2 separate regions of the Homo sapiens genome follow, and region 1 is linked to region 2. A link means that fine-mapping ties the variant in region 2 to the expression of a gene that starts in the linked region. Tissue or cell type: unexposed skin. Region 2 holds a variant in brackets; the other region holds the start of a gene. All regions are shown on one strand. Distances are from middle to middle.

Evidence for each region. PIP is the estimated chance that this variant, and not a neighbour inherited with it, causes the effect.
Region 1: LINC02175 starts here. The variant in region 2 is the best candidate, but not a certain one, in a credible set for the expression of LINC02175 in unexposed skin (GTEx, PIP 0.82).

What each region holds. Positions count from the first base shown.
Region 1 is chr16:25,064,739-25,070,112 of GRCh38, reverse strand. LINC02175 (long intergenic non-protein coding RNA 2175) reads right to left here and starts at 3,226. Exons shown (of 2, transcript NR_135197.1): 1 at 2,467-3,226; 2 at 1,158-2,334. It also overlaps the pseudogene SCML2P2. RefSeq lists a silencer at 2,934-3,323.
Region 2 is chr16:24,957,141-24,962,514 of GRCh38, reverse strand. ARHGAP17 (Rho GTPase activating protein 17) reads left to right here. Exons shown (of 20, transcript NM_001006634.3): 8 at 2,536-2,604; 9 at 2,763-2,844. Among named protein-coding and RNA genes, the nearest start is that of ARHGAP17, 56 kb to the left of the region's middle. The variant A/G (reference allele first, on the strand shown) is at 3,103.

The sequences.
Region 1 (5,374 bases), 110 kb before region 2:
ATTGTAAACTTCATCTCCTTTAACACTTCCAATAATTGCAGGACAGACCAGATAATGGTTCTTCCTATCTATTGCTTCAAGTTTCATTCTCATTTTAAGTGATTTAAGGTTGGCTTCTGTGATTCTTCCTTAAAGTAATGTTAAAGGTGTGACTTCAGTTTCATTTAGAGTTCATAAGATGACTCTAAATGACTAGCCAAGATGACACATTCATCTGGAACCCCAGGGAAGACGGAAGTAAAACCCTCCTTTTTCTCCTAAATATCCCAAAAGGTTGGGTGCCCTAGGTCCAAGGGATCTGCAAGCCTCCTAAAGAAATTTCCATTGTCCCTCCCGGCTGGTGTGAATTGTAATCTGGTATCTATATCCCAGGAACATTTAACAAACATTAAAGAAACACCATAAAGCTAACAAGCTGTTACCAACTGTGAAGTCATTAGCTAGAGGAATCTTGGATTGTCCAAAAGACTGAAAAAGCCCAGGCAGATCCCATCTCTTCCTCATAACTGTTCCACTGGAAATTGTCATTTTTCACAGGAGACTTTTCGTTTTTTTGGTGACAAGGTCTGGCTCTCTGTCACCGAAGCTGGAGTGCAATGGCACCATCTTGGCTCACTGCACCCTTGACTTCCCATACTCAGGTGATTGTCCCACCTCAGCCTCCTGAGTAGTTGGGACCACAAGAATGCACCACCACGCCTAGCTAACTTTTTCTTTTATTTATGTATTTTCAGATAGGGTCTTACGCTGTTGCCCATGCTGGAGTGCAGTGGTGTGATTATGGCTCACTGCAGCCTCCAACTCCTGGGCTGAATCTATCCTCCTACCTCATCCTCCCGAAGTGCTGGGATTACAGGCATCAGCCACCATACCTTGCCTTAATTTTTAAAAATTCTTTGTAGAGATGGAGGTCTCTCTACATTGCCCAGGCTGGTCTTGAATTCCTGGGCTCATGCAATCGTCCTGACTCAGCCTCCCAAAGTGCTGGGATTACGTGCACGAGCCATCATGCCCTGCCTTAATTTTTAAAAATTAACTGTAGAGACAGGGTCTCCCTCTCTTGCCCAGGTTGACCTTGAACTCCTGGGCTCAAACTATCCTCCTGCCTCAGCCTCCCAAAGTGCTGGGATTGCAGGCATAAGCCACTACACCCAGCCTAACATGAGGCATTCTTTTTATTTTTTTTTGAGACAGGGTCTCACTCTGTCATACAGGCAGGTGGGTGGTGACAGCGACCATGACCACGGGTCAACCTGGGCCTCAGACACTGGGGAAAGGTGGCCATGTCCAGTTTTCTCAGGAAATTAGGAGGCAGGTCATCCGAGGAGAGAGGGTGTGTCTGGGGTAGGGTGGAGTAGCTTTCAGAAAAGTGTAAGTCTGGCAAAAGCACTCAGGAAAATGGGACAGAAAATGAGCCAAGCGCTGGATGGCAGCGTTCATTCAGCCCAGCTGAGCTTGGAGGCCATGAAATGCTGGCAGCCCCACACTGCAAGACTGCAGGGTCTTTCTGGGCCACGCCCCGAATCCCAGGTATGGAAGTGAAGGACCCAAAAAGAGGAACGAATCAGGCTGTTATTCTGCAGAACAGGTGAAAGAAAAAAGCCAAGTAGACAGAGCCTTGGAAGTCAAAGAGTCACCCACATGCCTGACCCAGTCAGAAGAAAGGGGACCAAGCCAGGGCGGGAGGGACTGTGTGGGAAAGAGGAGGCTGAAAGGAGGAGAGACCGCGGGCAGAGGTGGACAAGGGACCAAGGTGAAGACCTTTGAGGTGCTTCTTGAACCACAGTGGTGAATGTCTTTCTGGACAAGAGTGCCAGTGCCCACCGCCATCACAGGACACAGCCCCATCCGCACTCCCGGGACAGCAACATCTCATTGTCCCAAACTCTGCCAATTTCATCAGTGAAAAGTGGAGCCTGGAAGCTTTGCATTTCTTCAATGACTTCGAATTTTTTAAAATGGTCTCACAGATTTCCTGGTCATCGGTATTTCATCTGAAAAGTCTCTTTCTGTGATATCTGCTCATTAGAGCGGAGTTCTTAAAATTATTAGAGAGTGTTATACATTCAGTATATTCACCTCTGTGGTGGTTGCTCTCAGTTTTGTCCAGTTAGTCATTCATCATAAATTTAACTTTGATATCATAATAAAACAGACAAAAGTGTAGTTATTATGTGCTTAAATCTACAGGTGCTTTTTTAAAAAGTTCTTTTTAGAGACAGGGTTTTGCCCTGTCGCCCAGGCTGGAGTGCAGTGGCGCGATCTTGGCTCACTTCAGCCTCCACCTCTTGGGTTCAAGCCATCCTCCTGCCTCAAACTCCAGAGCAGCTGGGACTACAGGTGAAAATATCACAATTATATGTTAGAGAGAGAGAGAATGAATCATTGTAAAACAATGAAAAGGTGAAGAATGTCTGTTACCTGTGTAAGTAACATCTACATCAACCCTCACCTGAAGTTCCTCACCTCTTCCCTTGCTCTTTTCTTCAGCCCAAACACGGTGTTCAACGTTCTTCCCAGTCACCGCCCAAGGCCGCTGTCTTAGCCCTGCCGTCATCACCTCTCTGAGCCTACTGCAGTAGCTTCCTATCTGGGTTCCCTTTCCATTCCTCCCGGGTCCCGACTCCATCGGCTGCCAGTTGACTTCCCACAGCACCAACTTTTCTCAGCCTTCTGCCTATGAGAGCTCCCCAAATTCTACCACGGGAGCCCTCAAACCATGATCCTCCCCAAAACGTGAACAGCAGCTTCTCGAACCATGGACAGATGGCACAGATGACAACCGAAGCCAATCACCACTGCCTGTCCCTGGAAGTGGACGCTCCGGGTCATGGGTGGCCATGTATCTCGGTCCTGCTATCCTGGGTGGTTGGAGGAATTCTAGCAGTGAGAGTTGAAAACCGCTCGGCGCGCGGCAAGAGAGGATGAAGCCCGAGTCTGACCTGGGAAGGGAGCTGCTCCCCGGGCAGTGGACCCCAGGGCTGGCGGGGAGGCGGCCTCGGTCAGCCCAGTTGGTCTCGGGCCGCTGGGCCTCAGCCCCCAAGCCTGGTGCCCGCTGGCCCCGGAGGAGCTGTCCCGCCCCCTCCGGCACTCGCCTTCCGGGGCTTGGTCGGCTAGCTGCTTCACGCGCGCGGGCTGGGGGCCCCAACGGCGGACGAGCGCTGCTCCCACCGCTCCAGCGCCCAGACTGTAGCGGCTCCGCCTCCGCGGTCCGTTGGCCCCGCCCCCACGTCTCTTCCGGGGCCCCGCCCACCCCCTTCGGGCCCGCCCAGCACGGCCTCCCCTTGTGGCCTGGAGCCCCAGGCCGAGGGCGCAGAGACCAGAAGGCCGAGCTGGGCGGCGACCCCCGTTCTTGCCCGGTCACTTCCTGCGGCGCCGCCTGCCCGCTGGCAAACTGTGGCTGGGAGACCCTTTAAATAGAACGTATTAGCCAAAACTAGAAGAGCAAAATATGTACCATGTTTCAATTTAATGGGATTGCCAGGTGTTTTAAGGGTCCGCCGCAACGGTCCCTCGAGTCCCGGGGTTTTTGTCCCCATCAGATCATTCGTGGTGTGGATCTTCCGGGAGGTTATGGGAAAGGGAGACCAGCAGCCGGCTCCGTGGGCGGCCATACTGCTCCCCCAGGAAGGCCAGGCAAATCTTCAGTGCTGGGATCCCCCTAGTACGTTCATTTTGTCTAGGGTCCAGGTGGGGCCATCGAGCCCCTTGCCCACAGGATTGGTCCTTTGGCATGCAGATAAGCAACACCGCCAAGAAAAGCCCATGGGGTCTTTAGGCTGTTAGGAGACCACCAGGGAGCCATTCCTAAATCTTCCCAGGTGATGGTTCCAAAAACCCTGGTGTTTGGGGAAAGGAAAAAGGGTTATCCACAGGACTATGCTGGAACACTTTCCCAAACAGTGTCTGCCTGGCTGTCCCAAGCAGCCGGTGATGGAGCGATGGTCATGAGGCTAGACCAAAGACCACAGAGTCTAGCCTCACTCTAGTGGAACTCAGGCACCCACCCGTTAGGATGTCGTGTTGCTGCTGCCCCCAGGTGGGAGCCTGGGAAACCACCTGGCCGACACGGGCCACACCTGATGGGACCTCACAAGGAGATACAGTCCATTAACGTTCGTCAGGGTGGGAAGAAGTGGCAACACCTACTGAGATAACAAAACTCATTAGCTGAAGGGCAAGCTGGCCAGCAACTGGCAGTGATGTTCTCAATAGTCCTGGCCGCCTTATAAAACCAGCTACTTAGGCCGGGCACGGTGGCTCACTCCTGTAATCCCAGCACTTTGGGAGGCTGAAGTGGGTGGATCACAAGGTCTAGGAGTTCAAGACCAACCTGGCCAGTATGGTGAAACCCCGTCTCTACTAAAAATACAAAAATTAGCCTGGTGTGGTGGTGGGCGCCTGTAGTCCTAGCTACTTGGGAGGCTGGGGCAGGAGAATCGCTTGAACCCGGGAGGAGGAGGTTGCAGTGAGCTGAGATCGCGCCACTGCACTCCAGCCCGGGAGACAGAGCAAGACTCCGTCTCTAAATAAATAAATAAACAAACAAACAAAACCAGCTACTTAGTAAAGGAGCAGCTAGTTAAAGCTAACCAGGGGTCCTCAATCAAGGATGGGCCACACTGTTTGTGATGCCAATCGTTTTATTCACACTCTTTACTCCATTGATGAAAGAGGGATTCCTTCCCCCCACGCTCCTGCCCCCGCCCCTGTCCCCACCCCCAGAGATACGGGGATGGCCGAACACACAACACTTGATGCAGGACGGATGCAATCAACAGCAGCTGACTGGTCACAGATACTCCAGTCCAGGGGAGAAGGACCCTGCACACTATGCAGGGCAATGTGGAGGCTACACTCCGGAACACGGTAACAAGGAGGGGCTGCTGGAGGCAGGCTTTGTAGTAACAAAAGTGCAGAGTGAGCCCTGGTTCCCACGGGAGGGTGTGACTGGCTTGTCTGAATAATTCGTCCTTGAGCTGGCAGGGAACTGAAGCCTACTGTTTGGGGATAAGCAGGCTCTGTGTCTGATCCCTAAAATAAGGAGAGTGTTTAGCCAGAGAATTTCATCTGCGGAAGCAGACAGGGAGCGAGGCTTGGAGTTCAGCCATTTGAGGCCCTCTTGATTTAAATGGATGTAAAGACAGAATTTGATATGAATCCTAATTTCAGGCCTTACACCACAATACACTATTAAAAAGTAAGTTTTCCGAGAACTAGTCATTGAGTTCAGTGTCACAAGATTTTAAATAAACATTCTAAACTCAACTGTGGCATAGTGGTTCACGCCTGTAATCCCAGCACTTTGGGAGGCCAAGATGGGAGGATTGCTTGAGCCAGAGGTTCGAGACCAGCCTGGGTAAGATGGTAAGGC
Region 2 (5,374 bases):
GTAAATTTAAACTTTAAACCCTCCTGAAAGCAGGCCTATGTTTTGTGAAATCTCTTGGCCAATGTTTCTCAGACCTAAAGCCCATTCCAAAACAGACATACTTCCCCATGATTTCCATGTGATGCTAAGTGCATTTGTTCTAATCTGTTGTTTCGTTGAGAGTACAGTTCTTCAGGAATCTTATCTTTATGCATGATATATGTGTACTTGTTTCTCCTTACTAGTCCCCAAGGCTTCAGACACCTTGGTCACCAAGACTGGCACAAATCTGCCCCAGGTCATCTCCAGCTTCCATTGATGCTTAGCATTCCGACTTTTTCTTTCTTTCTGCTTCTTTTTCTTCTTTCTCTCTTTGTGTGTGTGTGTGTATGGTGGGGTTGAGGGGAATCAAGGAATTTACTTTATTGCTTTCCCAGTTATTATAAAAGGATGTTCATTACTTCTAACTAGCATTTCCAAGTTTTTGTCATAAATGGGAGGCCCTTCACATTAATTTGTGTACCTTGATGCCAAAAACAGAAGTCATTACATTAAAAAAAAAACAAACTCTCTCTACATATATATTTTCCGGCATATAAGTTTTCATATATATATATATATATAAAATTCCTATGTATATTTATATTTGAAGATTGGAAATACGTACCTAATTGCCTAATCTGTCACTTAAAATTTCTTTTTGGCCAGGTGCAGTGGCTCACATCTGTAATCCTAGCACTTTGTGAGGCTGAGATGGGAGGATCACTTGAGGTCAGGAGTTCAAAACCAGGCTGACCAACATGATGAAACTCCATCTCTACTAAAAAACAGAAAAATATTAGCTGAGTATGGTGGTATGCACCTGTAGTCCCAGCTACTCAGGAGGCTGAGGCAGGAGAATCGCTTGAACCCCGGAGATGGAGGTTGCGGTGGGCCAAGATTGCGCCACCAGACTCCAGCCTGGGCTACAGAGCAAGCAAGACTCCATCTCAAAAAAAAAAAAAAAAAAAAAAAAAATTTTTTTTTTTTTTTACTTAGAGACTAGATCTTGCTCTGTTGTCCAGGCTGTTCTCAAATTCCTGGCTCCAAGCAATCCTCCCACCTCAGCCTCCCAAAGTGCTGGGATTGTAGGTGTGAGCCACCACACTCAGCCTGTCACTGTTCACAAAATTATTTAATTTTTATATATGTAATTCATTTACATTAGGTCAGATATGAAAAAGTGTAAAACAGTGTACCGTGAAGTCTTTCTTCTACCATTATCCTCCTCCTGCCTAATTTCCATTGCTCCCAATAGGTAATAACTGTACTAATTTCTTGTTTTTTTGTCAAGACATATTTTTATACATATGTGACAATAACAATATGACATTGCTGAGTGTGGTGGCTCACGCCTGTAATCCTAGCACTTTGGGAGGCTGGGGTGGGTGGATCACTTGAGGCCAGGAGTTTGAGACCAGCCTGGCCAACGTGGCAAAACCTTGTCTCTACCAAAAATACAAAAAGTGTGGTGGCACACGCCTGTAATCCCAGCTACTAGGGTGGCTGAGACAGGAGAATTCCTTGAACCCGGGAGGTGGAGGTTTCAGTGAGCCAAGATTGTGCCACTGCACTTCAGCTTGGGTGACAGAGTGAGACTCTATCTCAAAAAAATAAATAAAAACAAAATAAAAATATGACATACCCTTCCACCCACCCCCTGCCTTTTTTTTTTTCTTTGGAGACGGAGTCTTGCACTGTTGCCAGGCTGGAGTGCAGTGGCACAATCTTGGCTCACTGCAAGCTCTGCCTCCCGGGTTCACACCATTCTCCTGCCTCAGCCTCCCAAGTAGCTGGGACTACAGGTGCCCGCCACCATACCTGGCTAATTTTTTGTATTTTTAGTAGCGACAGGGTTTCACTGTGTTAGTCAGGATGGTCTCAATCTCCTGACGTTGTGATCCGCCCACCTTGGCCTGCCAAAGTGAGCCACCACACCCAGCCTTTTTTTAGACAGAGTCTCACTCTATCGGCCAGGCTGGAGTGCAGTGGCACACGATCTCAGCTCACTGCAACCACCACCTCCCAGGCTCAAGCAATTCTCCTGCCTCAGCCTCCCGAGTAGCTAGGATTACAGCTGCCCGCCCCCACGCCTGGCTAATTTTTGTATTTTTAGTAGAGACGGGGTTTCACCATGTTGGCCAGGCTGGTCTCAAACTCCTGACCTCAGGTAATCTGCCCATCTCAGCCTCCCAAAGTGCTGGGATTACAGGCATGAGCCATCGTGCCCGGCCATTCCACCCCTTTTTTAACCCAGATGTTAATACACCATAAGTAATGCTCTGTACTTTGCTTCTTAAACAGATGTGTTAAAATATATCTTGGAGATCTTTCTTTGTCAGTCATGTAAGAAGCCTCCTTATTCTTTCTGTATGGTTGTACCAGGCAGTTGATGGACATTTAATCTGTGGTGCTTTCCATCACTTTTTCATCTAAGAGCTCACAGAGATTGTTCTCAGATGCCATTTTGTTTCACTTCTTTTTTCTTCAATAACCTCTTATCTTCCATTTACCCAGGATCAACTTGCAGCAGACATGTACAACTTTATGGCCAAAGAAGGGGAGTATGGCAAATTCTTTGTTACGGTAAGCACCTTCCCTTGAGAAAATGTTAAAGCATTGTTAAAATGGAGTCATTTTAGCTTTTTTGCAAAAGATTTCATTTTTAGTTTTGCTCAGCCATTGTGTGTGTGTCCATCCGATGCTAACGTTACTTTTGTTTTTGAATGTGGGTCTGTTCTCAGTTATTAGAAGCCCAAGCAGATTACCATAGAAAAGCATTAGCAGTCTTAGAAAAGACCCTCCCCGAAATGCGAGCCCATCAAGGTAATGTAACCCGCGTGCGGCTGATGCTTCCTTCTTGCCTCTGCCACCTCTGCCTGGGTTCTTCTTCACCCTGACTCCTCTGCATGCACGTCCTTGGGATAAAGCTTCTCTGCCTAGGAGGGTACTGTTTCCCAGCATAATTTCATCTTCCTTGCTGCATTCTCTAATTTCTTCCAAACCCAAATTAACACACTAATGGAACATTTGTAGTTCTTCTGAAACCTTCAGTTGAAGAGAAAGCTGGCCTCTTTGGGGAGT[A/G]CCTGTGTGTTTTCCCATCTTCTGTAGGCTTGAAAAAGTCCAGCATTGAATGATCCTTTTCCACATCAGTTATTTGTTCCACAGGACTTAATTCTGGCCATGTGACTCCAAGAGCATCCATTCTAGGGAAAATATTTTGGACTTTCCAAAAGAGAAGCCAGTACTTGATGCCACATCATGCACGTCACACTTAATAATAAGTGTGATTGAATCCTAAGACCGTGGTCGCTTCGTTCAGACTCCTCCTTTGTCTTTATACTAAGCTTTTGTTCTTATCACCATTAATATTTCTCCTATCATATTCAAGCACACTGCAGATTGTATCTGCAAGTTAGGTGCAGACTGAACTTTCCCCTTATGTTGAATTTTAAGTTGGGCATCTAAAGCTGCTTTTTTTTTTTTCTCTCCCTAAAGCTTTCGATGCTGTGTCTCTCTGATTTACCATTAGAGCATTTACCAGCAGAGATGAGCACAGCTGTTGAGTCAGAAATTGCTCGGCCGTCTTTGGATCTATTTCACCTGTGGTGTAGACCTGACATTTGGAGCTTATGCTCCTCTGCAGAACCACTGGTCTTGAGCTGAAAGGGGATCAGGCCAGGTGCTGAGTGGGATGACTTTGTGATTTTGAGACCGAGCATGTGTCTGTGTGTGTTGTGGGGGGGATGCTTTGTGGATGTGCATACATACCAGCACCTTCAAGAATGCGACTTCTTCTCCCCCTAAGTTCCAGGAGATCCTCACAGGTTCTGGCTTTGTGCCTGAAAATTTTGGGATTATGGAATTATAAAATTTTATGTCTTGCCTGACCATATAGTCAGATCTTCAGCATTCTCAGGGGCAGTGTTTCTGATTTTCTCAGCCATTGCCCTTGCCTTCCCAAATAATCAAGATTATTAGTTCATGGAGGATGGTGTTGAGTCACAGTGCAAAGGAACGAGGTCTCTGGAAAATGTTCCCACCTTTCTAGGGACAGACTCTTGCTGGGCAAGTTCAGAGGACCAAGAAAATATATTTATGAGATATCTGCTGTGGGCTGGGCCCCGCATAGGACAAAATAGTAGACAAATCATCATTTTAGCCTTTGAATGGCTGAGAGTCTGATTTGAAAGAGTTGATTAACAAGAGGAAAAACGAGAGATTGGATTTTTTTTCGCATTTTGTTTGTTTGTTTGTTTTAAAGAGACAAAGTCTCACTCTGTTGCCCAGGCTAGACTAGAACTCTCATTCTGTTTTTTTCCCAAGGGTATTTTCCCTAGAGAAATACATCAGGAAGCCATGGAGAGCGGGGATGGGACAGGAAAGAGGTTAGGATGGAACAGCCCGTGGAGGAAGTGCGATTTGTCCTTCTTGCTGAGGTCACCCTTTACCGAGTTGCAATTCAACCCCTCCCACCTCTGCCTGTCCTTGTACCTGCCTTTCATCTTAGTTCTGTCTTTTCTTTCCTTGCTGTCTTCTCTGTTTTCAGAAAGACTTATCTTGTCCTTACTATATAAAAAAAGTGTGACCTGCCCCCACAGCCCCCTCACCTCCGTGGACTCTGGTGTCACATTCATGGTCAGTTGGTGGTAATCTGGTACCTTCCTGACCTGAACACAGCGTCCTGTTTAATCTGGTTCTCCTTCATTTTTTCTGGTGGGTACTTCAGATGACCCCTTCCTGCCTGCCACCTGCATTTTCTTACCACCTTCCTACTCCTGAATCCTTTGCACTCTTGTGTCTACCCCCAATCCCTCTGCTGTTTAGGAAAAAAGAGCAAAACATACTGCAGTTTTCAAAGGACCAGCAACCACCCGTCAGATCCTGGCATTTGACCCGGCATGGGCCGTCCCTTCCTTATTCATTTTTGTCTCCTCACGCCACTCGACTGTCTTCTTTCATTGTAAGGACTCTGCATTGCTCCATTTCTTTTTAAAAATTTTTCTTCAAGAAGGATTATATATTGCTCATTTCTGTCTCCACCCCAGAAGTCAGCCTTTTCTGAGGTCCAGTCCTTGCACCTCTGTTCTCTCCCACCCTCACTTCCTCGCCCCCTTTTCCCTAGAAATCCCCTTACTTGGACAGCTTTGCCTCTTACCTGCATTTTAATCCTTGCAGCCTCCTAAGCATCGGTTCCCTTTGATGAACAGCACTCACCTTAAACTCAAAAAGCAAACCAGTCCTCTTCCCACTCCAACTGTCCCTTTTCTCCCTTCTTGTCTCCCTTATATCACCTTTCTCCAAGTGATTCAGGTCTTAACCTTGGAACCCTTTTCTCCTTCCTCTCTTCCATCCA